6 separate regions of the Homo sapiens genome follow, and all the other regions are linked to region 2. Evidence: fine-mapped expression QTL. A gene starts in region 2. Each other region holds a variant in brackets. All regions are shown on one strand. Distances are between the middles of the regions.

Region 1 (5,071 bases), 770 kb before region 2:
TGGACAGATGTAGACCCACCTGGGGATCAGGCACCTCTTCAACCAAGGGTTTCCTTACCTTGCATATCAGCATCGACGGCTCCCTCCTTATACTTGGTTACATCCTTGATGATCTGTGTCATGTTTTGGGAAAATGTGCTGAGGTCTCTGATTGTCCGAAGGTTGAAATGGAAATGGGATGTGGCCATGGCCTTCAGATTTTCCTCAGAAGCTTTCTGCACCCCCACGGAGATAATTTTCACCCCGTCTTTCTGCAGGGCTTTCGAAGCCTCTTCCACTTCATCCTCAGACTCAGCCGAAGCCAGGACCACCAAAATTGGGGGAAACTGTTTCCTGTCTCTCCCATTTATGGGTGCAGAGAAGTAGGTCCTATGAGCCTCCTGAAGAGCCTTTCCTATCTGCAGGGACCCGCCAATGAACTGAAAGTTCTTCTTGAGGTGGTTCAGCATGGGGCTTCTGCCTTTGAAGGTGCTCAGATGGAATTCACTGTGAAACTCGTCGCTGTACTGGGCCAGGGCTACACGGTATTTGTTGGCCTCTATGGGGAGACTGTTGATCATTTTGTTGATGAACGTTTTCACGAATGGGAATGACTTAGGTCCCAGGTGATCGGAGCTGTCCACCAGAAACACGACATCTGCATACACAGGGCCTGGCCCTATCAAAATAAAATAACAAGCAAAAACAAAGTTATCATTCAACCTTTGTATTTTAGACCACAATACTTATTTAAGACTATGTGCTGGTGTTAAGTGTATATCAGAATCCCAAGAAAAGTGTCTTCTGGAGGTCAAACAGAAGAAAATATAATTGCCTTTGCTAAAATGTCAAACAAAAGGGCTTTAGTAAAGTTAGCCAACAGATATACAAGAGACAATAAACTTCTTTTCTTTTTTAGTTCTGGAACCCTAAACTCTGATATTGTACCAACTCAGAAAGTCCCTGACTGGACTGGTTTTGCTGTGTCCCTACCCAAATCTCATCTTGAATTATAGCTCCCATAATCCCCATGTGTCATGGGAGGGACCCAATAGGAGGTAATTGAATCATGGAGGTGCTTACTCCCATGCTGTTCTTGTGACAGTGAGAGTCTCATGAGTTCTCATGGCTTTTCCCCTTTTGCTTGGCACTTCTCTCTACTGCTACCATGTGAAGAAGGACATGTTTGCTTCCACTTCTGCCATGATTGTAATTTTGCTGGGGCCTCCCCAGCCATGAGGAACTGAGTCAATTAAACCTCTTTCCTTTGTAAATTACCTAGTCTTGGGTATTTCTTCATAGCAGTGTAAGAATGGGCCAAAGTTGTTTGAGAACTAACAGCAATTTTTGAAAACGTTATAGAGTAAGCAATTGTCTCAGGTGGGAGAACAGAGTCTAAGATGGGGATTTCAGATGAAAGTGCTTGATTGAGGGCGCGCAATGTAAGAGAAACAGGATAGGACAGGGAACAAGCAGAGAAGGGCATGTCATCCGGTAAGGTCTAGCTTTGACCTGCTCTGCAAGGGGCTCTGGAGCCTAAATTACAGCAGAGCTGTCCCTCTTTGAGGCAAGAGGGCCAGTTTTTTGTGCTACCCTATTAGTCAGTCATTGGCTGCAGACCATCCCCAGAAGTTGGAGAGAAGGAGCAGAAGGTTGTAGGCAGAACCTCTTGGTTAAGTGGGAAAACTGAGAACAGTTCCCCTGAGAAAATGGGGCACAGCCATGAGCTGTTGCCAGCAATATTCACAGTAGCTGGGAGGTGGGTGCATCAGCCAGATAAGAAGAGTCTGGTAAGGGAGGTGCCAATAGTATCTACCTTAGCAGTCATGGTCAGCCGTGCTGCTCCTGAAATTAGTAATGTGCTAGTAAATGTCTAACAACTGGCTCTTTCAAGGTAACTCAGAAATGCATCAGGAAATCTTAGAGTAACACAGTGACAATGCACAGTTTAAAATACTTCTTTGAATGATGTTTTTAGTAATTACAAGAGAGTATAAAAACTTACTTTTCATGCATGCTCTCTCGCTTTTCCTATACAGACAGGCACACAGACACGGACATACACACACTCACACAGTCGTGTGCTTCACAACGACATAATGACATTTCAGTCAACAACAGACTGCATATATGACAGTGGCCTCATACAGTTAAAATTAAGCTGGCTGGTCATGGTGGCTCACACTGTAATCCCAGCACTTTGGAAGGCCAAGGTGGTAGGATCACTTGAGCCCAGGAGATTGAGACCAGCCTGTGCAAGATGATGAAACCCTGTCTCTACAAAAAATATAAAAATTAGCCAGGTGTGGGGGCATGCACTTGTAGTCCCAGCTATTTGGGAGGCTGAGGCAGAAGGATTGCTTGAGCCGAGGGAGCAGAGGTTGTGGTGAGCCGAGACTGCATCACTCCACTCTGGCTTGAGTGACAGAGTGAGACTCTGTCTCAAAAAAATACGATTATAATAGAGCTGAAAAATTCTTATCACCTAATGACATCATAGCTGTCATAATGTGGTAGTGCAAGGTATTGCCTTTTCTGTGTTTAGATGTGTTTAGATATATAACTCCTTACCATTGTATTATACTTGCCTACAATATTCAGCATAGTAACATGCAGTACAGGTTTTTAGCCTATGAGCAATAGGTTGTATCATATGCCCTAGGTGTGTAGTAGGCTACACCATCTAGGTATAAGTATACTCTATGATGTTTACACAATGACAAAATCACCTAATGATGCATTTCTCAGGAAGTACACCCATTGTTAAGTGACGTATGACTGTGTGTGTGTGTTTGTGTGTAAATATATATTTCATGCTTGTAAAAGGAAAGGAAGGCAATGGTTTTAGTCACGAAAATACTTAGAATTTGTTTTCTGTGTCGGGTTCCTTTTCTTTCATTTATGAGATCAAGATTCAAATGGATCTATAAACAAATGGACTGACTCAATCCATGGAGACATGTAATATTGAGATTGAAGCAAATTAATGGATAATTAAAGTTTTTCTAGCCAGGTGCAACATAACTCCTGACTTTTGCTCATGGCTTTGTGCTGTCTTTCACAAGTTAAGTTTGTTTGATGTTGTATAACAATTACTAAATGCTGCATACTTT[G/TG]ATTTTTAGTAAATAAATTATTTCTTGCTGTTTATTAAAGTTTACTGAGATGTAAAAATATTTCCTAAATAATAATAAACGTAAAATATACTGATACCTGGGCTCTGGTCTGCCAATGTTTCAGTCCAAATGATTAGGACAAATATAATTAGCAAGATCTTCATTTTGTTAGTGAAGATTTTTACTTTTGTTCTGCAAAAGAAAATTATTTACATTATGAAAAATTTTATTTTATACCATTAAGTAACTGTCAGGATAGTTGTATTAGGGCATGGTACCTGTAAACAAGTATTTGTCAAGCAGTGCCAAGTGTGTTTATAAAATTCATCAAGCATTTGGAGTATTTGTTGAAAATATTAATGCTAATGTTTGCTGAGCCCTGGCCAAGGCTCAAACACCTTTCTCAGTGCTTGACAAGTGTCATCTAATTTAATCCTCACAACAATCTTATAGGGAGGTACAATTACTACACTTATGTGACAGAAAAGGAAACTGAAGCACCAAATGGCTTGGTAAGAGGTAGATCGATCCACAGTACTAACCCAGACGAAGCAATTGCATCACCTAACCTCTTAACCACTGTGTCATAAGCTTTATACAAAATTACTGTCCTCGCAAAATTTATGTAGTCACTATTCTCTACCCTTTATTGTTATGCCACTATCGTATATGTTTATAATTTGGCTTAAAAAGCCAACAGCTACACGTCTCTTCCTTCACTAAGCCTTTGTGAAAACTGCTTCCTCACTTACAGTTATGCTCAATTTCACAAACTACCTTAGGTTTGGTTTTTCCACATAGTTCACAATCAATCAGAATGCTTCATGGGAAATTAAAATCTCAGGAATTTAACCAAATCAGAGTTTGTTCTTTATAAGAATAGAAATAGATTTAAATGGCCGATACTCAAAAAATAGATCTCCCTTAAAACAGATACCAAAGGTGTAAGGGCTGATTTTTAGAGTCCTTTTGAAATTGTTACTCATTCAGGAAGATTGATAGAATCATTGGAAGCTGGATGTGGAGAAGACCCTATAAATCATTTAGATTAAGCCCCCAGTTCAGGGGAAACAACATTTTTATCACCCCAAAAAGAAACCCCAAACCCATAGCAGTCATTCCCCATTCCCCCACTCCCCTTCTATAGGTGCTGGCACTGATCTACTTGCTTTCTCTATGGATTTGCCTATTCTGGACATTTTGTATAAACAGAATCATACAATATGTGGCCTTTATGTTTGGCTTCTTTCATTTAGTATGTTTTCAAGGTTTATCCATGTTATGGTATGTATCAGTACTTAATTCTTTTTTATGGCTGAGTAATATTCCATTGTATGGATATAGATATATATATATATAATTTAAAACATTAATTGTCAGTTGATGAACATTTGGGTTGTTTCTACTTTGGGCTATTATAAATAATACTGCTATGAACACTTATGTACATGCTGGTGTGAATATATATTTTCATTTATCTGGACTAGGTACCTAGGAGTGAAATATTTGGTCTTATCATAACTCTATGTTTAACATTTTGAGAAACTGCAAAATTGTTTTCCAAAGTGGCCACACTATTTTACATTCTCAGCAGCAGTGTATAAAGGTCCCAACTTCTCCACATTGCCATCAACACTTATTTTCCATTTTGTTATTATAGCCATTCTAGTGGGTATAAATGGTTTTCATTTGCATTGCCCTAATGATGAATGATGTTATCTTTTCAGGTACTTAATGGCCATTTGTATCTCTTATTTGGTGAAACATCTATTTAAATGCTTTACCCATTTTTAACTGGGTTTTTTGTCTTTTATTGTTGTAATATAAAAATTCTTTATATACTCTAGATGCTAGAATACTACATGCTTAGCAGATATATGACTTGCTAATATACTCCTGCCATTCTGTGTGTTGTATTTTCACTTTTTAAATGTGTCCTTTGAGGCACAAGTGATTTTAAATTTGATGAAGTCCAATTT
Region 2 (5,071 bases):
CAGCCAGGGGTATAGGGGCTGCCACCATGAGCCATCCTGGCCTGATGGTGCTCCCAGCTAATGGGTAGAAGGGAGAAATCATAAGATGTGGAGCCAGATCTGGGTTTCAATCCTTACCTTGCTAATGCCCCTCAGTTTCCCCATCTGTGAAATGGGTTTGCTGACCACAGCCTAGTCAGCTGGCTGCAAGGATGGTGTAAGATCTGGTAGGGCAGTGCTGGGCACAGGATTCACTCTCACCGTCTGGTGGCTCTGCTAGCCACATTGGGGCTCAGGACAGGAGGTGGAGCCCTGGTCTTTAGTTGCAATGCCCCCCACCCCAACTCCTGGCTCTAACATGGGCTTCAGGGGTCATGGTTCACTGCCACAAGGCGGGGAGAAACTGGTGTTTGCTAAGAGCCTTGTTGTGCTTGACACCTGTTATGTTATATTCTCCATCTCACACCCTCCCAGGGGCAGGTGTTCTGCTACGATTGTCCTCATTTTACAGTTGAGGAAACTGAGGCTCAGAGAGGGTGAGTGCCTTGCACAAGACCACACAGCACTTCTCACCTCCAGTTGATGTGAGGATACTCAGACCCGAATACCCTTCACCTAGAGAGCTCCTAAACCCCACTGCTCAGCTTGGCAGGGAGCTTGTGTCCCAAGTGCCCAGGATCATCACCACAGGCTGGTCTAAGACAACACTGAGCATTATCCTCACGGCTCAGTGGGGGGAGCTGCAGGATGCAGCAAGATGAACCAGATGAGCGGGAGACAGGAAGGAAGAGAGGAGGGGCTGGAGAGGGAGTGGGGGTGAGGGATAGGGAGGGAGACAGAGAGAGAGACAGAGATAGAGACACAGAGAGACAGATGAAGAGTGGAAAGGGAAGGGGGCAAGACACTGAGAGAAGGAGAGACAAAGAGAGTGAACGGGAGGAGCAAGACAGATAGGAACAGAGATGGGTGGGGGCAGGAGAGAGAGAGATAAGACAGAGAGACCAGCGGATGGACTGGGGTGGGGGCACTGAGGATGTGAGTGAGGAGGAGGGGCATGGAGGCAGGCCCCATGCACCCCTGCTGGGCTCTGCAGTTGGCCCCCACGGGTGGCACGATGTGCGCCTTCTCCATCCAGAGAGGAAGACAGGGACACAGTCCCACGGGCAGTCCCCTGAGTGGCTCTTGGTGGGTGGATGGGCCTGGGAGGGGGCCTCCAATTTCCTGCAGCTCAACACTCCCGGCCATCAAAGCAGTGGCCAGACCAGGGCTGAGGGGTCTGGAACAAGGCGGGCAGGATGGCAGGAAGGCGAGGGTGTTGAGGGAAGTGGGGGGCGGCTGCAGGCCCAGCCTTTCCTGCCGGCCCCATGGTGCACAGACACCCCTGCCCTTCCTTCCTGGTTGGGTGGGAAAGAGGAAAATGAGGTCCCGCTACTCTCAGAGTGAGGCCCACCGGGCACCCTGTGGAAGCTGGGGGTCTGATGGGAGGCCCCGTTCTGAGAGGTCGGAGCTGAAGGGCTTTTGCTTTCAAACACTGTAGCTCTGCTCCTCATGAGCTGTGCATCTTGGGCCAGTCCCTTCCCCTCAGCCTTGGTTTCCATATCTGGAAGATGGGTTACCAATAGCGCTCGCCTCGGGGGAATCTGTGAGGAAAAAGAGAGCCCGTACATGGCAAGTGCTTGGCACAGTGTCTGGCACGGGCTAGCCCTGTGTGAGCACCCCCGCAAAACAGCCACGGCGCATGGTCCTCACAGGGCTGTGACCTTGGAACCAGGCTGCCTGCCCCTAACGCTGCTTTTGAGATCAAGAACCCTGCCCAGTGCCGGCTTTTGTGGGACTAATCTTCCACTAAGCCTGGGAGGATGTCAGGGAAAGTGCCTGGCGGGGGTGCCAGGGGTGGGGGTGCGGCTGGGTCTCCACAGGAGGCAACTGTGGGCTCCAGGACCAAGGCCTTGCTCTGGCTATCGGTTGTGGGCCACTGGCTGGAACTATTTCCTCTCTCCATGTTTTCCTCATTTATATATCTGACCCTGAGCACTGGTCCCTCTGGCCCTGCCACTTGTAAATCCCTTTTATGGGTCTGGGGTTTGGGGGACAGATTATGGGGTCTGGGGGGCCCGACTGGCCGGCACCGGGGGAGCGAAGGCCTGGACAGTGCCTGAGAAAGGTGGTGGAGGGAGGCTGAGTGTGGAGGGGAGACACAGGGTTCGGGAAGGCAGAGGGAGAAGGAAAGGGGAGCTCAGAGGGACCGAGAGAGGGACGGAGGGTCCGAGGGGGAGGCAGAGGGAGCCACGGAGAGAGGGAGCGAGCGTCAGGGACGGAAAAACGGAGCAGGAGAGAGAAGGAGACTAGAAAGGGCCGGGGGCGGGGCTGCCAGGGACTGGAGAGCGAAGCGGAGTCGGAGGGAGAAGGAGAAGCAGAGGCAGAACCCGGAGAAGCGCCACACGCGCGGAGTTTGGGGTGGGGACAGAGACGGAGAGACGCAGAGACCGAGAGACGCAGAGAGAGGGAGAGACGGGGTGGGGGAGAGGGCGGAAAAGAGAAAACAGGCGCGAGCGAGGCAGGCCAAGCGGCCAAGTGGGAGGAAAGAGCGAGGAGAGCGAGCGACGGCGGCGGCGGCTACGGGGAGGGACCCTGGGGCCGCGGGCGGGTCCTGGAGGGCGCGGGCGGCGGGACCCGCGGACGGCGGGGCGTGGCCCAGGGCGGCCAGGGGCAGGCGGGGGTCCCGGGGGCGGGCGGGGCCGGGGCGGGGAGTGAGGGCGTGTCCGCAGCGGAGCCGCCCCCGCCCCGCCCCCGGGCTGCGCGGCGAGGCTGACCCGGGCCCGGGCGCCGGGGTCGGGGGCGGCTGGCGCGGGCAGGAAGCGCATCGCGGCCCGGGCCCGCCCCCCGCCTCCCGCCGCCTCCGGGCTCCCGGCTCCCGGCCGCGCCTCGCCCCATGCACTCGCCGCGCCGCGCAGCCCGCGCACGCCCGGATGGCTCCTCGCGCCGCGGGCGGCGCACCCCTTAGCGCCCGGGCCGCCGCCGCCAGCCCCCCGCCGTTCCAGACGCCGCCGCGGTGCCCGGTGCCGCTGCTGTTGCTGCTGCTCCTGGGGGCGGCGCGGGCCGGCGCCCTGGAGATCCAGCGTCGGTTCCCCTCGCCCACGCCCACCAACAACTTCGCCCTGGACGGCGCGGCGGGGACCGTGTACCTGGCGGCCGTCAACCGCCTCTATCAGCTGTCGGGCGCCAACCTGAGCCTGGAGGCCGAGGCGGCCGTGGGCCCGGTGCCCGACAGCCCGCTGTGTCACGCTCCGCAGCTGCCGCAGGCCTCGTGCGAGCACCCGCGGCGCCTCACGGACAACTACAACAAGATCCTGCAGCTGGACCCCGGCCAGGGCCTGGTAGTCGTGTGCGGGTCCATCTACCAGGGCTTCTGCCAGCTGCGGCGCCGGGGCAACATCTCGGCCGTGGCCGTGCGCTTCCCGCCCGCCGCGCCGCCCGCCGAGCCCGTCACGGTGTTCCCCAGCATGCTGAACGTGGCGGCCAACCACCCGAACGCGTCCACCGTGGGGCTAGTTCTGCCTCCCGCCGCGGGCGCGGGGGGCAGCCGCCTGCTCGTGGGCGCCACGTACACCGGTTACGGCAGCTCCTTCTTCCCGCGCAACCGCAGCCTGGAGGACCACCGCTTCGAGAACACGCCCGAGATCGCCATCCGCTCCCTGGACACGCGCGGCGACCTGGCCAAGCTCTTCACCTTCGACCTCAACCCCTCCGACGACAACATCCTCAAGATCAAGCAGGGCGCCAAGGAGCAGCACAAGCTGGGCTTCGTGAGCGCCTTCCTGCACCCGTCCGACCCGCCGCCGGGTGCACAGTCCTACGCGTACCTGGCGCTCAACAGCGAGGCGCGCGCGGGCGACAAGGAGAGCCAGGCGCGGAGCCTGCTGGCGCGCATCTGCCTGCCCCACGGCGCCGGCGGCGACGCCAAGAAGCTCACCGAGTCCTACATCCAGTTGGGCTTGCAGTGCGCGGGCGGCGCGGGCCGCGGCGACCTCTACAGCCGCCTGGTGTCGGTCTTCCCAGCCCGGGAGCGGCTCTTTGCTGTCTTCGAGCGGCCCCAGGGGTCCCCCGCGGCCCGCGCTGCTCCGGCCGCACTCTGCGCCTTCCGCTTCGCCGACGTGCGAGCCGCCATCCGAGCTGCGCGCACCGCCTGCTTCGTGGAACCGGCGCCCGACGTGGTGGCGGTGCTCGACAGCGTGGTGCAGGGCACGGGACCGGCCTGTGAGCGCAAGCTCAACATCCAGGTACACCCGGGCGGTGGCGGCGGCGGCGGCGGCGGCGGCGGCGGGGGCGGGGGCGGGGGCGGGCGGGAACCGAGCGGGTCGTGAGCTGAGTGGGTCACAGGTGGGAGCGCGCAGAGATCCAGATGTACGTGGAACCCAGGTGTGCACGCGAGAATACAGGTGTCCCCCGAGGGGTACTACTGGCGCCTGTATGGCCCAGGTGGGCATGTGCAGGGACTCAAGTGAGTGCCGGCTCATGGGCGCGCATACCTAGGCGTACTGGGAGGGGTCCAAGTTGCCACAGGTACCCAGGTGCGCATAAAGCCCAGGTATGCACGTGAGGGTCACAGGTGCATGCTGAGGGCGCAGTAAGTGACTGCATGCCTGACCAAAGTTGTGTTCTGGGGCCACTGCGTGAGCCTGTCAGAGTTACCATTGCACGTTGGTGATGGGTGCATGGGTGTGGCAGGTGTGCAAGGAGGCACACAGGTGTGCACCAGGGCCCTGCAGATGTCTGCATGGACTTGTGTGCCAGCAAGCTGGGGCCTGAAGACGCACAGGGCAGACAGGTGTACTGCACAGACACTGGTACAACGGGACAGGGCTAGGTGTGCAGTGGGATGTGCGTGGCAGGGGACGCAGGTATTTGGGCATGAGTCGGTACTCTGAGGAGGCTGCATGGTTGGCAAACAGGTGTGTGCCTGAGGCCAACTTTTATTCACCTATTCTGCAAATATTTCCTGAGCACCTAGTATGTACCAGGTGTGGGAGTCTGGGGTAAACAATAGCACTTGTGGAGTGCCAGCTAGGGGCATCACATGTCACAATTCCCA
Region 3 (5,071 bases), 39 kb after region 2:
GAGCATCCTCCCCCTTTGCACCCACAGAAGGAGCAGGACAGCCTGGGGCTCCAGAGTCACGAGTACCGGGTCAAGATAGGCCAAGTAAGCTGCGACATCCAGATTGTCTCTGACAGAATCATCCACTGCTCGGTCAACGAGTCCCTGGGCGCGGCCGTGGGGCAGCTGCCCATCACAGTGAGTGGATGGGGCGCCGGAGCAGGGCAGACCTGGCCCCACCCCTGGCCCATCTGCCAAGCATCTGCCCCTCACCCAGCACCTGAATTCACTGAGCGTTTTCACGCTCAACAGCTCAGTCCAGCAAAGCAGAGCTTTACATCCCCACTTGACATATGAGGAAACTGAGGCCCAAGAACTTAGTGACTTGCTTGAGGTCAGTGATGGGCCCCATCTGGACCTGGACCATCAGAAACCATAAGAAATTGTCCCTGTCCCCCTTGGCGTCTATCCTAGAGCCTGGGCTGCCAGGCACCATGTAGAGGCAGGGGAGCAGGAGGAGCAGAGAGGGGCCAGAACACTATCTCCTTGCATGTCTCCTGGGATGGGGAGCTCACTCTCTCCCAAGCAGCGTGTGCCACCCCAGGATGGCTCTGACTGGGAAAGCTTTCTTTCACCTGCACCTCAGTCCCAGTCCTGCACTCTGAGTCCTCATACCTCACCTACCCCCTGGTCCCAGGGCAGCCTTGCAGATACTTGGGGACAGCAGCCAGGCCCCGTGAACTGCTTCCTCTTGCTCACTCACTACTCCTCCCAGGCTGTAATGATAATCACAGCCCCCTGCATTGAGCCACCTCTGTGCCAGGCCCAGGACCAAGGGCTTGACAAGCCCTCATTTAGCCTTCCCAGTGTCCCCAGGAGGTGGACATTGTTATCTCTATGTTATCAGTGTGGCACCTGAGGCTCAGAGAGGTTAGGTAATTTACCCAGGGCCACACAGCAAGTGAGGAGCAGAACTAGAGTATAAGTCCAGGAAAGCTACAACCCCCTTCCCCAACCTCTGCACAGATCCAGGTAGGGAACTTCAACCAGACCATCGCCACACTGCAGCTGGGGGGCAGCGAGACGGCCATCATCGTGTCCATCGTCATCTGCAGCGTCCTGCTGCTGCTCTCCGTGGTGGGTAAGGAGCCCCACCCTCAGGACACCTTGGAGGGCAGGCTTGCCACCTTGCCCCAGCCCCTCTGAAGATTGGCAGATGGGAGAAGGCAGGATGGGATGGGGCACAGCTTGAACAAAGGCTTGGCCATGGGAACAGGTTAGGCACCCAGAGGTTGGGGGAGGTGTGCCCTGGCTCCAGCACCAATGGGTAGAAGATGTTAGGTGGCCAGGGGATATGCTAGGCCCACGCCCAGGTCCCTGAATCTCAAGCAGAGAAATTTGGAACCATGTTCTCCAGTCAATAGAGAGCTACTGAAGGTACTTAAGAGAGGATTACTCAGGAAAAATTAACCTACATGTCTGGTGGGCTATACCACTGTTAAAATAATGGTCAATAAAGTAATAGACTCGATGTAGCAGAGAAACTGGAGCCATCATACGCTACTAGAGGGAATACAAAAAAGCGCAGCTGCTTTGGAAAACATTTTGGAAGTTTCTTAGGATGTGAAACATAGAATTACCCTATGACCTATGACCCAGCAATTCCACCCCTAGCTATCTGCTCAAGAGAAATGAAAACGTAGCCACACAAAAACTTGTACACACGTTTATAGCAACATTATTTATAATAACCAGGAAGTCAAAACAACCCAAATGTCCATCAACCAATAAATGAATAAATGAAATATGATCTATTCATACAATGGAAAATTATTTATCCGTAAGAAGGAGTGGAGTACTGATCCATGCCACCATGGGCAGGCACCTTGACAATATTACACTAACCAAAAGAAGACTCACCAAAGGCATATTGTATGATGCCATTTATATGAAATGTTTAGAATAGGGAAATTCATAGAGACAGAAAGCTGAATGGTGATTGCCAGGGACTAGGGAGAACACGAATGGGGAGTGACTGCTGCATGGGTATGGGTCTTCTTGGGGCAGCAAAAATGCTCTAAAATTAGTGGTGATGGTTGCACAACTCTGTGAATATACTAGAAACCATTGAATTAGGCCAGGCTCAGTGGCTTATGCCTGTAGTCCCAGCACTTTGGGAGGCCAAGGTGGGTGGCTCACTTGAGCCCAGGAGTTCAAGACCAGCTTGGGCAACATGGCAAAACTTTATCTCTACAAAAAATACAAAAATTACCTGGGCATGGTGGCATGAGTCTGTAGTCCCAGCTACTCAGGAGGCTGAGGTGGGAGGATCACCTGAGCCTGGGAGGTGGAGGCTGCAGTGAGATGTGATCGCGCCACTGTACTTCAGCCTGGGTGCCAGAGTAAGACTGTCTCAAAAGAAAAAAAGAAAGAAAAGAAACCATTGAAGTATACACTTTAAATCACTGGATTATATGGTATGTACGTTATTTCACAATAAAGCTGTTTTATTTTTAAAGTGAGTATATTCAATGCAGAAAATTTTTGGAAAAACTGAAAGATGATAAAAGGAAAAAATACCCATCATTAATACCCTGTGTATTTTTGTATCTTCCCTCCCAGTCTCTTTTCTGAAAATACTATATATTAATAGATATTTTAATACATTATGTATATATTCCTCCCCACCCCAGGAAAGGTTATAATGTAATATTGCTTTGTAATCTGCTTTTAAAAGTTTCTTAATTTACAAGTAACACCTGGTCATTGTAGAAGGAATAGAAAATGCTCAAAAGCAGAAAGTAAACCGAAGTCACCCAGAA[T/C]CCTCCCACCCAGGAAAGCCACTGTTAACCACTATTTCACACACACGTATTCCTGTTTCTTTTTTTTTTTAACGGGGCTAGACAAATTCTAACAGAGCTGTAACACTACACACTTCTTTTTCTAAGGACGGGTCATCAGGCATTGCTTTGCTGGCCATTCCCCAAGCCCTCTGTCCACGGGAGAGCTCCCCGCAACTCCCCACCCCCCACCCCAACCCTGCCCAGGAGGGAGGACTGCAGGGCCTCCTCCCACACCCTGCCCAGAGGAGCTGGAGCGGAGGCCAGAATACAGCAGGCGCCAATAAAGGCTTTCCAAAGGGCACCAGAGGCCTGACCTGCCTCTCCACTGCCCGCAGCCCTGTTCGTCTTCTGTACCAAGAGCCGACGTGCTGAGCGTTACTGGCAGAAGACGCTGCTGCAGATGGAGGAGATGGAATCTCAGATCCGAGAGGAAATCCGCAAAGGTAGTGGGCGGGGACCCTGCAGGGCTGGGCCTCAACTTTCCCTCCTAGGGGATGGGTTCTCGGGCCGCTCACGGCTGTCCGTGTGTCCGCCAGGCTTCGCTGAGCTGCAGACAGACATGACAGATCTCACCAAGGAGCTGAACCGCAGCCAGGGCATCCCCTTCCTGGAGTATAAGCACTTCGTGACCCGCACCTTCTTCCCCAAGGTCAGCCCGAGCCTGAGCCTGCCCTGAACCTGTGCCAGCCACCTCAAGGCAACTCGACCTCTCTGAGCCCTGCCAGCCTATAGGGTCCCTTGAGCAGTGCCAAACCTGCACAGCTGTCCGCAGCCGTCCTGGCCACTTGCCCTGGCCTGCCACGGGGAGAAGGGTTGGAGGCAGATTCTCCACTGTCATTCTCTGCTCACTTGATGTTTAACAGTCCATATGGAAGCCAGCTGCAGCCCCGCTGTCCTGGCCAGCTGGGCCTGCCTCTCCCCTTTTCAAGGTGGGGCAGAAGCGGCCAGGGCTGTCCCAGGCCAGCCTCTCTCCTTCCTGTGCCTCTTCCCAGCCAGGCTTCCCTTGGTCTCTACACTCCCTCCTCCTGTCCACTGGACTCCTGCCCCATCCCTTCCATGCCTCTCATGCCTCCCCTTGCCCTTCCAGGGTCCACTACCCTCACTCTACCTCCTAGTGGTACCACCCTCTCTCCCCTGTCCACACCATTCCCCACACAGTGGCCAAAGCAAGCCCATGTTTGACTACATCATTTTTCACGAAACCCTCCAGTAGCTTTTCCCAGCCTCAGGCTAAAGCTCAGACTCCCAGCCTTTCTGCCTCAGTTTCCCCCATTGCACATGGAGCTGCTTTTGCTTCCCCTTAAGTCTTGTGCTGTCTTGTGTGGCCACACCCCTGGAATTCCACAGCCCCCAGGCTTGGCCCACTGCCTCTTAGTCCTTTATGGGGAGCTAATTCCGTGCCAGTTTCCCCCAGCAGCCCAAGCCAGTGCCCCTTTCTGTGTGAGTGACCTTTCCATGCCAGCAGGGGGTGTCCAGCCCCGCTGAGATGCTGGGGGTCTGCCTCTGCAGTGTTCCTCCCTTTATGAAGAGCGTTACGTGCTGCCCTCCCAGACCCTCAACTCCCAGGGCAGCTCCCAGGCACAGGAAACCCACCCACTGCTGGGAGAGTGGAAGGTGAGTACCCCACGACCCACACACAGTGGGCTGCTTCAGGGCAACCCTGCTCCCCCCTGGGTCCCCTTTCCAGTTCATCTAATGCATTGATCCCTGTCATGCGGAGTTGGGAGGCATCTGCCATTGTAAGGTACTGAGCCCTCCATCCCAGGAGGCATTCAGGCAGCCATTCAGGGTATTATAAGTGCTGCCCCCGCAGGCCAGGTAGAGCAGACAGAGGATTGGGCCCCCCTGTACACCCCACTCAACCTGCTTAGAAAATGGAAGGTGAGAGTCCTCCACACTGGGATGCCAGGTTACCTCCAGGCACCCTTACCCTTCTCTGAGCCCCACTTTTCAATTCAACCAAGCTATTGTTCCCTGTCACAAAGGTTAGGAGGCATCCACCGTGGAAGGTAATGAGCTCCCCATCCCAGGAGGCATACAAGCAGCCGTCGTAAGCACTGGCTGTTAGGCTAGGCAGGGACACTGGGCCCCTCTGGACACCCCATCACCAGTTGCTTCCACAGATTCCTGAGAGCTGCCGGCCCAACATGGAAGAGGGAATTAGCTTGTTCTCCTCACTACTCAACAACAAGCACTTCCTCATCGTCTTTGTCCACGCGCTGGAGCAGCAGAAGGACTTTGCGGTGCGC
Region 4 (5,071 bases), 230 kb after region 2:
TCAAAAGGGAAACACCTGGGTCTGGAGGCAGGGGCCCTAAGGCCAGTTAATGCCAACTTCCTGAAGCTAAACCGAAAGGAAAAACCCAGCTCCCCATGCCTTAGTAGCAAAGGGTCAAAGGTTACTCTTTCTACAACCCTCCCCCTTCCACCATGGCTTAGACAAAAAGGGAGAGTGGCTTGGAGTGGCCACAGGCCAAGCAGGGACCATCCCTTCATCTGCATAGGGTGCCATTCACCTCAGTGTTTACTTAGCCACAGACCAAATCCTTCAACTATATAAGGGGTAACTGATAGGAACCTCAAAAGGAGTGCTTGAAACCCAGAAAACTTTGTAACTGGGCCCTTGAGCTGCTCGGGCCCAGTCCCACCCTGTGGCGTACCTTCTCTCTTTTATAAATCCCTGATTTTGGTACTTCGATCCTGTGTTTCATTCCTTTGTTACTTAGTGCATTTTGTCCAGTTTTTTGTTCAAAACACCAAGAACCTAGACAACTTACACCCAAGGCCCTCCTTCCAGTAACAGCAATAGAACACCGTATTTCAACATGATTCTGATATACCATTGATGGCAGTGGCTGCTCCAGATCACTGTGTTTTGGACAATGAAATGTAGCCAACTGTTCAACTGTAGCTCCCAGCTGCAGCAGGGAGACGTGGCTGGGGTTGCACACTCCATGAAGCCCTTCCAAGTTGGGGTGGGAGCTCCCCAGGTGCCACTGCAGCTGCCCAAACCATTGGGTTGCAGACCTGGGCCTCCCACTCCACAGAGCAGGCAGGAGCCCTGCCCTCCGGGGCAGGGCTGTAGCTGCCCAACTTGTGGCTGCAGGTCTGAGCCTCCCTGTGCTCTTGGGAGGCCAGGAGCAAGCAGGATCCCTGCCCTCCCAGGCACAGCTGTAGCTGCCTAAACCATGGCTGCAGACTCAGGCACCCCTGCACTCTTGAGGGCCAGGAAGCATCCCTTCCCCTTGCAGGCTCAGCAGTGCCTGCTCCCATTGCCTGGCTTCTCCCTGCTGTTGTTGCCCACTCCAATCTTGGAGGAATGTTGGGGCCAAGCTCAGGTGTCATGAAGGCAGCAGGAGGCAGACAGATTCCTGGATGGAAGGGGGCCGGTCCCCAGTGAGGCCCCACCTTCAGGCCAGGGAGGGTCTGAAGGCTGGGAACCAAGGCTGCCAGTCTCATGGACTGGACTGGGAACTTGTGGTGCCTTTTCCAGGCCCACCCAAGTACCAATCAGCATACACTTTTTCCCCTCTGAGGCCCATAAAAACCCCAGGTTCAGCCAGAGCTAAGCAGACTATGGGATGACCAGCTGCAGAGAAGAGCTACCCTTTCTGCTGAGAGCTTCACAGGCCTGCAGAGATGTTGGGACTACCAGCTTCAGAGAGGAGCAACCCACTCCAGGGCTTCCTCTCTGCTAGGAGTTCGGCAGATGTCAGGACGACCAGTAGAGAGTGGAGCTACCCTCTCCAGGGGCTCCAATCTACTGAGAGCTGCAGAGACAATGAGATGAACTGCCTGCAGAGAGGAGCCACCCTCCCAGGGCCTCCTCTCTGCTGAGAGCTGAACACTCCACAGGACCACCTGCCTACAGAGAGGAGCTACCCATTGTGGGTCTCCTTATGCCCATGATGGTTGGAACTAGTTTTTTTTCATGACAGCATCATGAAACAGTAGGCCCTTAAGGAAATCAAAGTATTTTACCCCAAAATATATTTTGTTGACATATTTTGAAATGGGCCTGCAAAGCTTTCTCTTGTGTGGGAAAATTTGCATTCTGTAGAGAATCTCCTTCTCTTACTAGGTCTTTTCTGGAGAGGCTGACACTTTTTAAGGTCAGACAAGAGACATTTGCCATCTATTCTCTCTGAAGTTTGCTACCTGAAGGCTTCATCTACATGAAAAGAACCTGGGCTTGGCTGGGCACTGTGGCTGACACCTGTAGTCCCAGCACTTTGGGAGGCCGAGGTGGGTGGATCATGAGGTCAGGAGATTGACACTATCCTGGCTAACATGGTGAAACCCCATCTCTACTAAAAATATAAAAAATTAGCTGAGCATGGTGGTGGGCACCTGTAGTCCCAGCTACTCAGGAGGCTGAGGCAGGAGAATGGCATGAACCCAGGAGGTGGAGCTTGCAGTGAGCTGAAATCACACCACTGCAGTCCAGCCTGGGCGACACAGTGAGACTCCATCTCAAAAATAAAAATAATAATAATAATGTTATCATTAGGATTATCATTATTTGATTCATATTTTTACTACTCAACAAATGTTGAATGATAAACATATACATTAGGCTGGGAGTGGTGGCTCATGCCTGTAATCCCTGCACTTTGGGAGGCCGAGGCAGGTGGATCATCAGTTCAGGAGATTGAGACCATCCTGGCTAACACGGTGAAACCCCGTCTCTACTAAAAATACAAAAAATTAGCCAGGCGTGGTGGCAGGCGCCTGTAGTCCCAGCTACTCAGGAGGCTGAGGCAGGAGAATGGCATGAACCCTGGAGGCGGAGCTTGCAGTGAGCTAAGATCGCACCACTGCACTCCAGCCTGGGCAACAGAGCGAGACTCCGCCTGTAGTCCCAGCTACTTGGGAGGCTGAGGCAGGAGAATGGCATGAACCCTGGAGGCGGAGCTTGCAGTGAGCTAAGATCGCACCACTGCACTCCAGCCTGGGCAACAGAGCGAGACTCCGCCTGTAGTCCCAGCTACTTGGGAGGCTGAGGCAGGAGAATGGCGTGAACCCAGCAGGTGGAACTTGCAGTGAGCCGAGATTGTGCCACTGCACTCCAGCCTGGGCGACAGAGTGAGACTCCATCTCAAAAAACAAAAACAAAAAGAAACAAACAAACAAAAACCAAGCTGTGACCCAGCCACCTTGGGCACATGTTCTCAGGACCTCCTTAGGCTTTGTCAGGCCATGGCCCTTGACCTTAGCAAAAGAAACCTAAGGTGATGGAGACTTGTGTCAAATACTTTTTGGTTTATAGCCATTTACCCTCTGACAGCAAGACGTGGCTGCTCCCAAGAGCTTATCTTTTCCACTGTGCCATCCTTCTCACCTTCCCCTCCTTTAGCCGGGCAGCAGGCATGGGCTGGGGAACAGGTGACCTAGCTCAGCTACATCCTAGGC[T/C]TGTGACTTAGGGTAAATCCATTAACTTTTTTTTTTTTTTTTTTTTAGATGGAGTCTCACTCTGTTGCCGAGGCTGGAGTGCAGTGGCGTGATCTCAGCTCACTGCAACATCCACCTCACAGGTTCAAGCGATTCTTGTGCCTCAGCCTCCCAAGTAGCTGGGATTACAGGCATGCACCACCACGCCAGCTAATTTTTGTATTTTTAGTAGAGACAGCATTTCACTGTGTTGGCCAGGCTGGTCTCAAACTTCTGACGTCAAGTGATCAACCCACCTCGGCCTCCCAATGTGCTGGGATTACAGGTGTGAGCCACCGTGCCCAGCCTAAATCCATTAACTTCTGTTTGGATGCCCTGCCCAGCTCAGGCTACCATCGGCAAACAAGAGAGGTGCTCCAGAATTGAGGAAGCACTGGGCAAAATGCAGGCATGATCGTTAACCTCTGTAAGTGGACCCAGGTTCAGCTACATGAGCCAAACATGAAAGGTGAGGGCTGGTGGGAAGAAAAGCAGGTTTAATTGGAGAGCCGGCAAATGGAGATGTCAAACGAGCGTTCTAAAGGAGCATCTTACCTTTTCAAATTGACCATAGGGGTTTTAAAGCGAAACTTGGCATGGGAGATATGGGAATGGTGCAGGGCACAGAGTCTGTGTCTTTGTCCCCATGGCTGTCTCAGGTCATTGCTGGTCTGGAGGTCTGATTGGTGTTATTGTGACTTTGGCCCAATGGTGGTGGACTAATTGTTCATGACTCCCCCTAAGCGGGAGTATTCCACAGAGGCTCCATGCCTGGTTTGTTTCAAGATTCGCCTCTGGGGTTTCTTAAACAAGAGCATAATTAGATAAACATGCATTGCCGGAGAGGAGTGTCTACAGAGGGAAGGAATGAAGGGGTGAGAGTGGAGAGGTGAAAGAAAAACAAAGTAGGTGATTTTTAAAACTGAGGTCCCAGCAGCCAAACAACCACTGGCCTCGAGATAAGCAACATTAAAACCATTTACACTCCTCTAATGTTGACTGACTGACAACCGGCCCCATTCTACCAGCCACAGCTACGGCTTTAATTAAACAAGAGACTGATTTCAGTAACTTTCCCCTGATAAAAAGACCACCGAGCTTGCATTAGTTCTGGCCGGTCTACAAAAATCACACACTTGGATGCCTTTGTGTCCCGAAAAAACTTTTTGACATATAGGGCCTAATTGTAACACATTTAAATGGTCCCCACTCCAAACTGAACATGGGTCATATGTCACATGCGTATTTGTTCAATACACATGTCAGGACCACCTTCACGAGCATTCATAGCTCCTCCCAAAGCCTGTTAAATATGTATAATTAGCCAACCTGTCCTCAGATCCCCACTGGAGCTCTGGGTACAATTGACAGTGGGAAACATGGACTATAAATTTGATTGACCAGCCTGAACAAAAAAGTGAGAGCCCATCTCTACAAAAAAATCAAATTTGCCCTGGGTGGTTGCACACACCTGTAGTCCCAGCTACACGGAGGCTGGAGCAGGAGGATCACTTGAGCCCAGGAGGTCGATGCTGCAGTGAGCCACTTTCATGCCACTGCTCTTCAGCCTGGATGAAAGAGTGAGACCCGGTCTCAAAATGATAATAATAAATTTTAAAGAGACTGAATGTTGTGTGTACTTCCTGGATAACTCCAGAAACATATTCTCAGCCCTGCGAGACATACACAAGTAAACTAGTGCTATGTCTGATCCCACAATATCTAAATCAATGGCTTTTATCATGGTTTGTATCAGGCCCCTTCTGGTGGAAAAATTGCTCATGATTTTGGCCATGATTATAGGAACAGGCTTATTCTTCTGCTGTGGACTCTATTGCTGTTGTGTGCCATGCATGGGAATGCAGGACCAGTTCTCCCAGGGGCTTCTGGCCCTTTGCACCATGATGCTTCAAAAGATT
Region 5 (5,071 bases), 23 kb after region 2:
AGAGGCAGAAGCATCAAGGCCCGGCCCTGTGCCCTCCCCTGCACGCCCGTGACTTCCCACCCCTCCTGAAGGGTCCAAGACAGGATGGGGAGGCAGAGCCCCCAGACCCGGGCTCAGGTTGTCCCCTGGGTTTGGCCTCCCCTGCTATGGGCTCCAGCACCCTGATGCCCACTACCCCCACAGATCAACCTGAACGAGAGCATGCAGGTGGTGAGCAGGCGGGTGGTGACTGTGGCCTATGGGGAGCCCGTGCACCATGTCATGCAGTTTGACCCAGCAGACTCCGGTTACCTTTACCTGATGACGTCCCACCAGGTGAGGCCAGAGCCCCAGCCCAACGCCATCCCAGCACCAGCCGAGCCCTCTTGCTTGCCTGGCCTTTACACACGCTGTTCCTCTGCTGGGAGCACCCTCCTCCTCCATCTCCCTTATCTGCTAACTCCACCTTGTCCTGCGCCTCCCAACACCGACCTTGCCTCTGCAGGGAAGCCTTGTCTCCCATGTTCCCCCATTAGAGTGTTGACCCTCAGTTTCCCCAGCCTCTCATGGCCCGCACCATGCTGACCGTACCACCTCCCCAAGGGAGAGGCTGGCAGTCCCATTGAGCTGGGCCCCCACCTCTGCCCCCAGATGGCCAGGGTGAAGGTCGCCGCCTGCAACGTGCACTCCACCTGTGGGGACTGCGTGGGTGCGGCGGACGCCTACTGCGGCTGGTGTGCCCTGGAGACGCGGTGAGGCTGGACACCAGCAACAGCTGGACCAGGAGGGCTGTGGGGGTGGGAGGAGCTGACCTGGGTCCTGACCCTGCGGTGCCACCCCAGGTGCACCTTGCAGCAGGACTGCACCAATTCCAGCCAGCAGCATTTCTGGACCAGTGCCAGCGAGGGCCCCAGCCGCTGTCCTGCCATGACCGTCCTGCCTTCCGAGATCGATGTGCGCCAGGAGTACCCAGTGAGTCCTGGGGGAGGCAAGACCCAGCTCGGGACACAGGGGAGCCTCCCTTCACCCAGCACCCAGGCCCCGAGAGGTGGAGACTCCCACCCATGGTGCCCCAAGGACCTGAAGACAAATAATGAGAACAGTGACAATGACTGGGCTTTCCTGACCAACTAGTAAGTGCCAGGCACGTGCTCTGTGCTTGACGTCCACCTCCGTTAGGCCTTACACACCCTATGAAGCAGATGCTTTTGACATCCTCATTTTACAGATGGGGAAACTGAGGCACCAAGTGGTGAAACGACTTGCTGCAGGTCGCACAGCTAGGGAGTGGTAGAGCTGGAATCTAAACTCAAGAGGCGGGTTCTAGAGACCCAGGAGGGAGGGTACAAGTTGGAGGCTTGGAGGACAGTGAGTTCCACCCACCTTTTCCCAGAACAGGGGATGGAGGGAGGGACCACCAGGTGCCAGACTGAAATTTCTCCTTCTCAGAAACAGATAAACCTGCAATGCAGGGGGCTGGGTCTCCCCCGGCTTGTGCCAGGAGGGCTCTGGCAGGCAGCCTTGGCGGTGGGGGATTCTGGGCCCCGGCAAGGGGTGGGAGCCGAGGGTCAGACAGGCCTGGGGTTCATGCATCTGGCTCTCAGTGACTTCTCTGAGGATGAGGGTCCTCTTCTCTCACCCTGGGGGGCTCTGACAGCCCGGCTCTGGCCTGTAGCTGCTCAGCATCTGGGGCTCCTCTGCCCTGCCCTGCCGTTATCACACATCACAGAGTCCTTCCCTCATTCATTCAGTCATTTCATTTATTGGACAAATATTATGGAACACGTACTATGTGCCAAGCACAGTTCTGGACTCTGGGGACACATCAGTAATCAAGACAGACCCCTGGCCCCAGGCTCATGGGGGAGGAGAATAGGCAAGATAAAACCTGAAGGTGATGCTAAGTACTGTGGAGAAAATGAAAGCAGAACAGGGGTGGGGAGCGGGTTGTGGGTGCAGACATCTCAGGCCAGGTCAGGTAAGATATGCAGGAGGGGAGCCAGGGTGAGCATCTGGAAAGAGCGTCTGGGTGGAGGGAACTGCCAGTGCAAAGGCCCTGAGGTAGAAACAAGATCAGCTGTTTCGGAGAGTATTAGGGGATGGGGTCAGAGGTCACAGGGGCCAGATCATGCAGAGCCTTCTTGACCACTGTAAGATGATGTTTCATTTTGCAGCTGGGGAAACTGAGGCTCAGAGGGTCACATGTAGGGCATAGCCCTCTGGCCCTGAGTCCTGGCCACCACTACCCCTTCCCCCAGGGGACATTCAGGCAGTGCCAGACCTTGGGTTGGTGCACAGCCCTGGGGCAGGCTGTGAGGAGCATAGCCTGG[A/C]CCCCCAGAGCTGAGGGCTCCTTGCCCCCAGGGCATGATCCTGCAGATCTCGGGCAGCCTGCCCAGCCTCAGTGGCATGGAGATGGCCTGTGACTATGGGAACAACATCCGCACTGTGGCTCGGGTCCCAGGCCCTGCCTTTGGTCACCAGATTGCCTACTGCAACCTCCTGCCGAGGGACCAGTTTCCGCCCTTCCCCCCCAACCAGGGTAAGCACGCTGTGCTGTTGGCACAGCCCCAGAGGGGCAGAACGGTGGACTGTCAGGCATGGGGATGGCAGGGGGCCAGAGGTCACAGCTTCTGATGTTGGTGGCAATCCCCTGCCCCCATGTCCTCCCCTGGCTCCCCCATCCATTCCAGACCACGTGACTGTTGAGATGTCTGTGAGGGTCAATGGGCGGAACATCGTCAAGGCCAATTTCACCATCTACGACTGCAGCCGCACTGCACAAGTGTACCCCCACACAGCGTGAGTGGCTTGGGTGGCTTGCCTCCAGTTGGTGGAGGGAGGAACGCATCCCCGGGAAGGGTCTTTGCTTTCAGGGGGCCCTGAGAAGAAAAATCATAGCATCGTAGAGGTAGACAGGCCCTTCAGTTGTTCATTCACCAGCACATTTATTCATTCTACAATAAATGCATACTGCCTGATGCCTGGCCTCTGTGGACAGCCAGGTGGGACGGGGCAAAGTGCTTTGATTATACTCAGTTTAGTCTTCTAAAGGCCCTGTCTCTTTTAACTCCTATTTGTATACCTCTTGTTAGCAGGCAGCTCACTACCTTAAAGACCCAATCTTTCCCAGGCAGCCCCGATGATGAGAAAGACCTTTCCCTGTGCTGGGATCTGCCTTTTGGGTTCTAGTTCCTGGGACAGGGATGAGTTGAGGGGTGGGGAACCAGGAGTTGAGGGGCCTCCTTGTCTTCCAGCTGTACCAGCTGCCTGTCGGCACAGTGGCCCTGTTTCTGGTGCAGCCAGCAGCACTCCTGTGTTTCCAACCAGTCTCGGTGCGAGGCCTCACCAAACCCCACGGTAAGCCAGGCTAGGGGGCCCCTCCGCCTCTGCTGTTTCATTACCTTTTTTAAAAAATTCACATGTTGAGAATGTTTCAATGCCTTTGCATATTCCGCCTTAGCTTTGGCTTTGACAGCTATATGGGGCTCATCACATACCACGGTGCGTTTAACCCATGCCCTATAGTTGGACATACTAATTATTTCCTCTTTTTTGCATTTTGATATAGCCAGGGCACTATGCATATCCTTGATGATTCCCTGAAGACCGCTTCTTAGAAATGACCTGTTGGGCTGGTAGTGTGGCCATAGTTCTACACCTTGAGCTCAGCTGCCTTCCAGAAAGCCTGAGCCAGTTTATACCCCCACTGCAGTAGGAAGACCATTTCAACAACCCTAGGTGTTCAGGGCATTTGTCCTCAAGGCCTGTGGAGGTGATTCGCTTAAGGTCATCGACTCAGGCAGTACCAGACTTGGGCCTTAACCCAAGTCCCTCTGCCCCTGGAGCCCATATTCTCCCCTCCTGTGAAAATCAGGAACTGGGTGGAAAGGGCCCTGCCTGGGTTTCTGCACGAGCAGTGGCGTCCCAAGGGTGGGTGGTGCTGCAGCTGTCCCTGGACAGGGAGGATGGGCTGGCCTCAGAAACCACACGCTCCCAGGTCCTCATGTCAGTCCCTAGGACCCTGCAGTCTGACTCCATGCTTGTCAGGGGCCAGGCCTGCCCCAGCACTGCATGGTGGTTGGGTTTAATCAACTAAATGGGGTGGGAGCAAGAGGAGGAAATGTAAAAATGGATCAATCTAGGCTTTTTAGTGTAAAGATAAAGTAAAAATGGACATGCCACATACCTCGCCCCTGGTTGGTTTCTGAGACTTGTTCACTTTCCAGGTGGCCTCTCACCTTTGCCCAGGAAGCCTCTAAGGCCACCGCAGCCCGTGCCAGGATGGCCAAATGGGATGCCTGGGACCTTGGCTGGGGTGATAAGGCCTAGCCAGGTGGGATGTGCCAGGGTCCTGAGATCACAGCTCGTCCCCTCTCAGACCTGGCGCGTATCAGGGCTGTGGGTGGCTGGGGTAGGGCACCAGCCTTCCTGCAGCTCATCTCTCCAGGCAAAGGCTGGTCCTGCCCATATTCCAGATGGCACAACTGAGATAACCAGCATGGCACCTGGTGCCCTGGCTCCCTGCAGAAGGTCACTGGGGCCCCTTTCTGGGCACACATCCCGGGGAAGCAGCCCCAGCGCCCAGAGCCTCTGCAGCCCCAGCCTTTTTGCACTGAGCTCAGAGAATCTTCTCAGGAATCCCTGAAGCCCTGTCTACCCCGGCAGTTGCTAAGGAGGGGGCCCCATGGCCTCAGCCTGGAATCCCCTGCTCGCTCGCAGTGCGCAGCACCTCCCACCTGAGCCCCATAACTGCTTTGAAGAAGAGCCTGGCAGGGGCCATGCTTAATTCTATTCGAAGAGGGGCTTGGCAGCAGGGGGCTTCCAGCACTGGAGGAGAGCCCAGTGGAGTCGGTGCAGTGAAACCATACGGGAGCCCTGAGCTGCTCCTGGACCCCCAGATTCCACAGTTGGGACCCCACTAGGACTCCTGCTCCTGTCTGGGGACCCCATCTCAATCACGTCTCTTCCTTCCAGCTCCCAGCCCAGGGTTGTGTACACAGCAGGGGCTCGGTTATGGTGGTGGGAAGCATCACACTGGGCAGCAGCCTGCTTCTTGTGCGCTAACCTAGGGGATGCGAGGAGGACCCAGCCT
Region 6 (5,071 bases), 160 kb after region 2:
AGTGGTCTAAAGCTTCCATCTGATTATCAAAGAGGCCCATCAGCCAAAAGAAGTTAAAAACCTGGGACTGGAATAATCTCCAAGGTTCATTCAAGAATTATAACATTACAATTTTGTGACTTCTTGGCAGTGGCTACAGAATGTTATCTCAATGTTATCCATTTGATACATGAAGAAATCGTGACTCAGACTCAATAACCAGCTCAGACTCACAGAACTCTGGTGTTGGGTTGGGGTTGGAACTCACAACTGTCTCATTCCAAAGCCCATTTCTTCCCACTAATCCTATGCTGTGGGACAACATGGATTTATTTTAAAATAAATTTAAATCTCAGTTTCATGCACCACTTCCCTTCCTTCCCAACCCACCTGGTACCCCAACTGTAACAATCCTTCAACACCACCAGAACCTACTACTTCTCCATTGCTGTCCTCTCTCCCTTCATTATTCAGCCAACAATTCAAGGTTAATGTACATAATTATTTATCTGTATACACTTTCTGCTCCCTTGCCCTCCTACTTCATCTTCAAATGTGCTTGCAAAACCACCTCTGGTTAAATTCACCTCTTCTGCCTCTACAACTATGCAGCTCAAAATCGCTGGAGAAAAAGACACAATCACACCAACTAATCTCACTTTCAATTCATGATCACAATCTTCAAGAGGGCCCTTCATGTCACCGGGGATCTCACTACACCTCCTGGGTCCACTCGCTGTCCCATTCTCTGAGGCAGTGACTTTACACTTTTTCCCTTTCTCTTCAACTCTCTGAAACCTCCCTTCCCCATTGCCACTCTCAGTTGCTGTTGCTTCCTATTTCACTGAAGAAAAAAAAAATGGAATTGAGAATTTCCATTAGATTCCTACTACCACATTGTCCCCATCTGCTGGCCTCTGCAGTTCCTACTGTGCCCCTATCTAAAGCAAATACCCCGTCTATGCCCTAGATCCCATCTCCTCTTGCCTACTCAACAACTCTGTTCCAGCAGTTCTCTCCCCTCTCCGACATCATCAACTTTTCTCAAATTCAGCATGTATAAAACTGAATTTCTGATCTTCAACCATAACTTTTCTCTACCTGCAGTCTTTTCCATCTCAGTGGGGGGGGCAACTCCAACCTTTCAGTCCTCAGGTCAAAAACTTGACTCCTTTTTCTTCATAGCCCATATCCAATCTGTCAGACAATCCAGTTGGCTCCACCCTCCCATTATATCCAGAGTCTGATAATTTCTCATCACCTCCTCTGCCCCCACAGAGGTCTGAGCCACCATCACCCCCTGTCTGGATGATGCTTCCTCACACAGATGTCCTAACCCTCACCTCTTGCAGGTTGTTTCCAACTCAGCAACTAGAGGGATCCTTTTAAAATACAAATCAAATCAGATCCCTCCTCTGCTGAGGACCTTTCAGTAGTTCCATTTTGACTGAGAATCAAAATCTTTATGATCTGACCACCCCATGTCTGTTACCACTTTATCCTCATCCTCTACAATTCCCGATTCTCTTTGATCCAGCTCCTAGCAGCCACACCCACACCTGAGGGCCTCTGCAATGGCTCTTCCTCTGCAAAGAGCTCTCTTCCCCCCGATGCCCACTGGCACAATCTCATTGCCTCCTGACTTCAAAGTCTTTTTCCTCACCTGTCCTCATCTCAATGAGCCCACCCTCACTAGTCTAATTCAATACTGTACCCAACCCCCTGCCCTGCCCAGCACTCTCAATCCCCCTCATTCTGCTCTACTTTTTCTTCTTCCATAACAGTTATCACCTTCCAGCATACTACTTAATTTACCTTTTTACTATGTTTACTGTATGTCTTCCCTCATACTTTCTTCCTCCCTCACTTCTCACCACCACCCCATAAAACAGAAGCCCCATAAGGGGAGGGACCACCGTTTTTTTCTCTGAAGTAACTCAAGCACCTTGAACAGTGCCTGGAACATAGATGACCTCAATAAATACTTGCTAGATTGAATGACCAAACTGAAGTCTTAGCAACTTCACTGTCTTCTGAACTTGCAACTTGTACTCCAGCTTACTAGAAATAATTAAAAAGTGACTAAAGAGAAAAATGAACAATGATGAGGCTATTATAGAGAATGGAAACCCAGAGCAGCCTTTTACCATCCTTCGCATATGCCACACAGTACACAGTGTCTTTGTGTCCCTTGAGGGGCTGAAGTAAGGTGCCATCAGAGGTGTCATAAACCTGGCAAAAGAGACAAATACAGATTATCTATGTGATATCTATTAGTCAGAATTCCTGCAGGGTTGCTACTGCTATTTTTGTTTTTATAACAATACGTGTCAATATTCTAAATCTGTAGCCAATAAAAACTGCACTGCAAAACCAAAAACAACGTGACTTAAAGTTGGGTAACCAAGAAGTAGAGGACCCAGGTCTATGTACTATGTGACCAGGAATATACTACCAATCCTTGAGAACCAAAGGTTCAATTACTCACTCCATGGAAATTCTTTATACTCATCCTTACCTGAATTTGGATATATGATTGATCAAGGCAGGCCCTCCTAAATAAAACTAGCCCATAAAAAGAGCCAGCTACAACATGATTAAATTTTAATGCCAGCTCTGCACTAAATCAACATAATAGATGTTTCATATTTGCTACCAAGAATTTGAAAGTCACAGAACTCTG[G/A]GCTTTCAAGTAGGAGGGAATGTTATAAAACCCAACTGTAGGCCAGGCATGGTAGCTCACTCCTGTCATCCCAACACTCTGGGAGGCTGAAGTGGGAGGATTGCTTGAAACCAGGAGTTCAAGACCAGCTTGGGCAACTAAGTGAAACCCCATCTCTACAAAAAATAAAAATAAATAAAAATAAAAAAAAATAAAAATTAGGTGGACGAGGTGGTGTGTGTCCACAGTCCTAGCTACTCGGGAGGCTGAGGTGGGAAGATCCCTTAAGCCCAGGAGTTTGAGGCTGCAGTGATCTATGACTGCACTACTGCACACCAGCTTGGGCAACAGAGCACAACCCTGTCTCTAAGAAATAAAATAAAACCCAGCTGTAATATGGATTTAGGTATTTGATAGCCATGTGACATCTATCACTATGTGGAGAGTTTAAAAACACACCATCTGGCCGGGCGCGGTGGCTCACCTCTGTAATCCCAGCACTTTGGGAGGCCGAGGTGGGTGGATTACGAGGTCAGGAGATCGAGACCATCCTGGCTAACACGGAGAAACCCCGTCTCTACTAAAAATACAAAAAATTAGCTGAGCGTAGCGGCAGGCGCCTGTAGTCCCAGCTACTCAGGAGGCTGAGGCAGGAGAATGGTGTGAACCCGGGAGGTGGAGCTTGCAGTAAGCCGAGATCGCGTCACTGCACTCCAGCCTGGGCGACAGAGCCAGACTCTGTCTCCAAAAAAAAAAAAAAAAAAAAAAAACACACACACACACACCATCTGAGAAATCAAGCGGAAACTTTCTGAAATGGTTAGAGTATTGGAAAAGATAACCTATGTAGAAAAACTAATAGAGTTTGGATTGTTTACACTGGAGAGAAGTCTGCAGAACAATTTAACCATGTTTTAAGATTATGTAGTTAACCATACAAAGAATGGAGATTAATCAGTCTGCGTATCTAGAGACAACAGAGAAGAGGAAGTAGACTTAGACAGAAAGAGAGATCATACAAAGGTTTTTTGGTCAAACATAAGGGGTTCTCTGAAAATTACTTTTATATACCTGGATAGGTTCCAGAGGGAGCTTATGTTATTTGAAAATATGAAAAATAGGACAACATCCATATGGAACTGTTTAGATAGGCCAATGCCTAAAAGTTGGGGTCAGGCTATCTGACTTTTCATGGACACAGCACCGTCAGTCCTGTTGCTTGAATTTTTCTGGGGGACAAAATGTAAACTGACACCAGTCCAGTTTCAAAGGCATTGTGATTGTTTTCAACTCTTTCATGGGTGTCTCAAAGTAAAAAGGGAAAGATGAATGACCCCAAAGGTGGTATTGTTCACAGGTTCTTATCTGATAGTTTACTTGCCCGTTTTAAATAGCCCATTTCCATCCCTATTAAAAAGTAATAGGGAAGGTTTTTCCACCCTTGCCTTTTTAATCTCAAAAAAAAAAAAAAAGGGTCAAATTTCAGAGTACTCACAAGAGGGAGGTTAGGGAAGCACTTTAAGAGGAAACTAAGACAAAATCCTACCAGTAATCTGCTTCCGGCAGCCAAAATCAGTTGAGTTCCATCAGGCTTAAATGCGATGTCATTTATACTGAACAGAAGACAAGGGAAAAAGACAATTAGGAACCAAAATGATGAAGTCTGCTAATGGCCAGGAAAGTAAACTTTATTGCCATTAAGAAACACTGTGTGTGTACTGAGGAGAAAAAGAATAACTACGAATTGCATTTGTTGCAAATTCCATTCAACCGCCACACCACAGCAGCCCATTCAATCATGATCCACTCAGTAGTTAGCTCTTTGTCCTGATTTCCTCTTGTCCAGAAGCCAGACACAAGAAATTATTCAAAGGGTCAACTGTTGAGGGTATTAACTCTTCTAATAATATCATAAAGGCTAGACAACATGAGAGAATGTGTTAAGGGCCAGTAAATCCACAGATACTTACTGAGTCCCTCTTAGGTGCCAGGCACCAACAGATATGAACAGATCATAATCCCTCCCTCCCCTCAGGGAAATTACTATCCAGTGAGAAGGTGTGAAACAGACACTTTCACAAAGAACTACCATATGTCATCAATTCTAAAGCTTACATTTTTTTTTCACATTTTCTCACCTCTAAGGTTGTGTCTTATAATTGATGATGTTTCAGTGTAACTGGCAGCATTTTTTGCTTTCTTATTGATACACAAAACAATGGTATTTTATAATCAATGACCTATTAGATTGGATGAAATACAGAACAGTACTCTGATAAAGGCTTTAAGAGACACATGAAAACAGGATTCGAAGGAGGAAGACGCAGTGATACAGGAGCTAGAAAGAAATTATTTAGCCAGATAGTGAAGGTAAAAGAGTCTTCGGCAGAACTTCCCTTTTAATAAAAAGCAGCCCAAGAAATTATTTTT

What was found.
Region 1: its variant is fine-mapped to the expression of PLXND1 in monocytes after R848 (Quach 2016, PIP 0.95).
Region 3: its variant is fine-mapped to the expression of PLXND1 in whole blood (TOPMed, PIP above 0.99). The same link has a PIP of 0.9 or more in blood mononuclear cells.
Region 4: its variant is fine-mapped to the expression of PLXND1 in whole blood (TOPMed, PIP 0.91).
Region 5: its variant is fine-mapped to the expression of PLXND1 in whole blood (INTERVAL, PIP 0.99).
Region 6: its variant is fine-mapped to the expression of PLXND1 in whole blood (TOPMed, PIP above 0.99).

What each region holds. Positions count from the first base shown.
Region 1 is chr3:130,371,824-130,376,894 of GRCh38, reverse strand. It overlaps COL6A5 (collagen type VI alpha 5 chain), which reads right to left. Exons shown (of 41, transcript NM_001278298.2): 2 at 3,190-3,284; 3 at 59-658. The coding sequence starts at 3,256. Among named protein-coding and RNA genes, the nearest start is that of COL6A5, 29 kb to the right of the region's middle. The variant G/TG (reference allele first, on the strand shown) is at 3,093.
Region 2 is chr3:129,604,517-129,609,587 of GRCh38, reverse strand. PLXND1 (plexin D1) reads left to right here and starts at 2,912. Exons shown (of 36, transcript NM_015103.3): 1 at 2,912-4,259. The coding sequence starts at 2,949. RefSeq lists enhancers at 700-1,690, 1,691-2,683, 3,676-4,668 and silencers at 2,584-2,743, 2,894-2,953.
Region 3 is chr3:129,565,892-129,570,962 of GRCh38, reverse strand. It overlaps PLXND1 (plexin D1), which reads left to right. Exons shown (of 36, transcript NM_015103.3): 19 at 28-177; 20 at 1,006-1,120; 21 at 3,158-3,265; 22 at 3,359-3,471; 23 at 4,332-4,436; 24 at 4,946-5,071. Among named protein-coding and RNA genes, the nearest start is that of H1-8, 25 kb to the right of the region's middle. The variant T/C (reference allele first, on the strand shown) is at 2,802.
Region 4 is chr3:129,374,157-129,379,227 of GRCh38, reverse strand. No RefSeq gene overlaps it. Among named protein-coding and RNA genes, the nearest start is that of SNORA7B, 21 kb to the left of the region's middle. The variant T/C (reference allele first, on the strand shown) is at 3,135.
Region 5 is chr3:129,581,832-129,586,902 of GRCh38, reverse strand. It overlaps PLXND1 (plexin D1), which reads left to right. Exons shown (of 36, transcript NM_015103.3): 3 at 184-315; 4 at 631-731; 5 at 822-951; 6 at 2,341-2,518; 7 at 2,670-2,778; 8 at 3,234-3,336. Among named protein-coding and RNA genes, the nearest start is that of PLXND1, 22 kb to the left of the region's middle. The variant A/C (reference allele first, on the strand shown) is at 2,310.
Region 6 is chr3:129,449,054-129,454,124 of GRCh38, reverse strand. IFT122 (intraflagellar transport 122) reads right to left here. Exons shown (of 30, transcript NM_052989.3): 2 at 4,188-4,254; 3 at 2,127-2,211. Among named protein-coding and RNA genes, the nearest start is that of IFT122, 11 kb to the right of the region's middle. RefSeq lists an enhancer at 4,023-4,739. The variant G/A (reference allele first, on the strand shown) is at 2,663.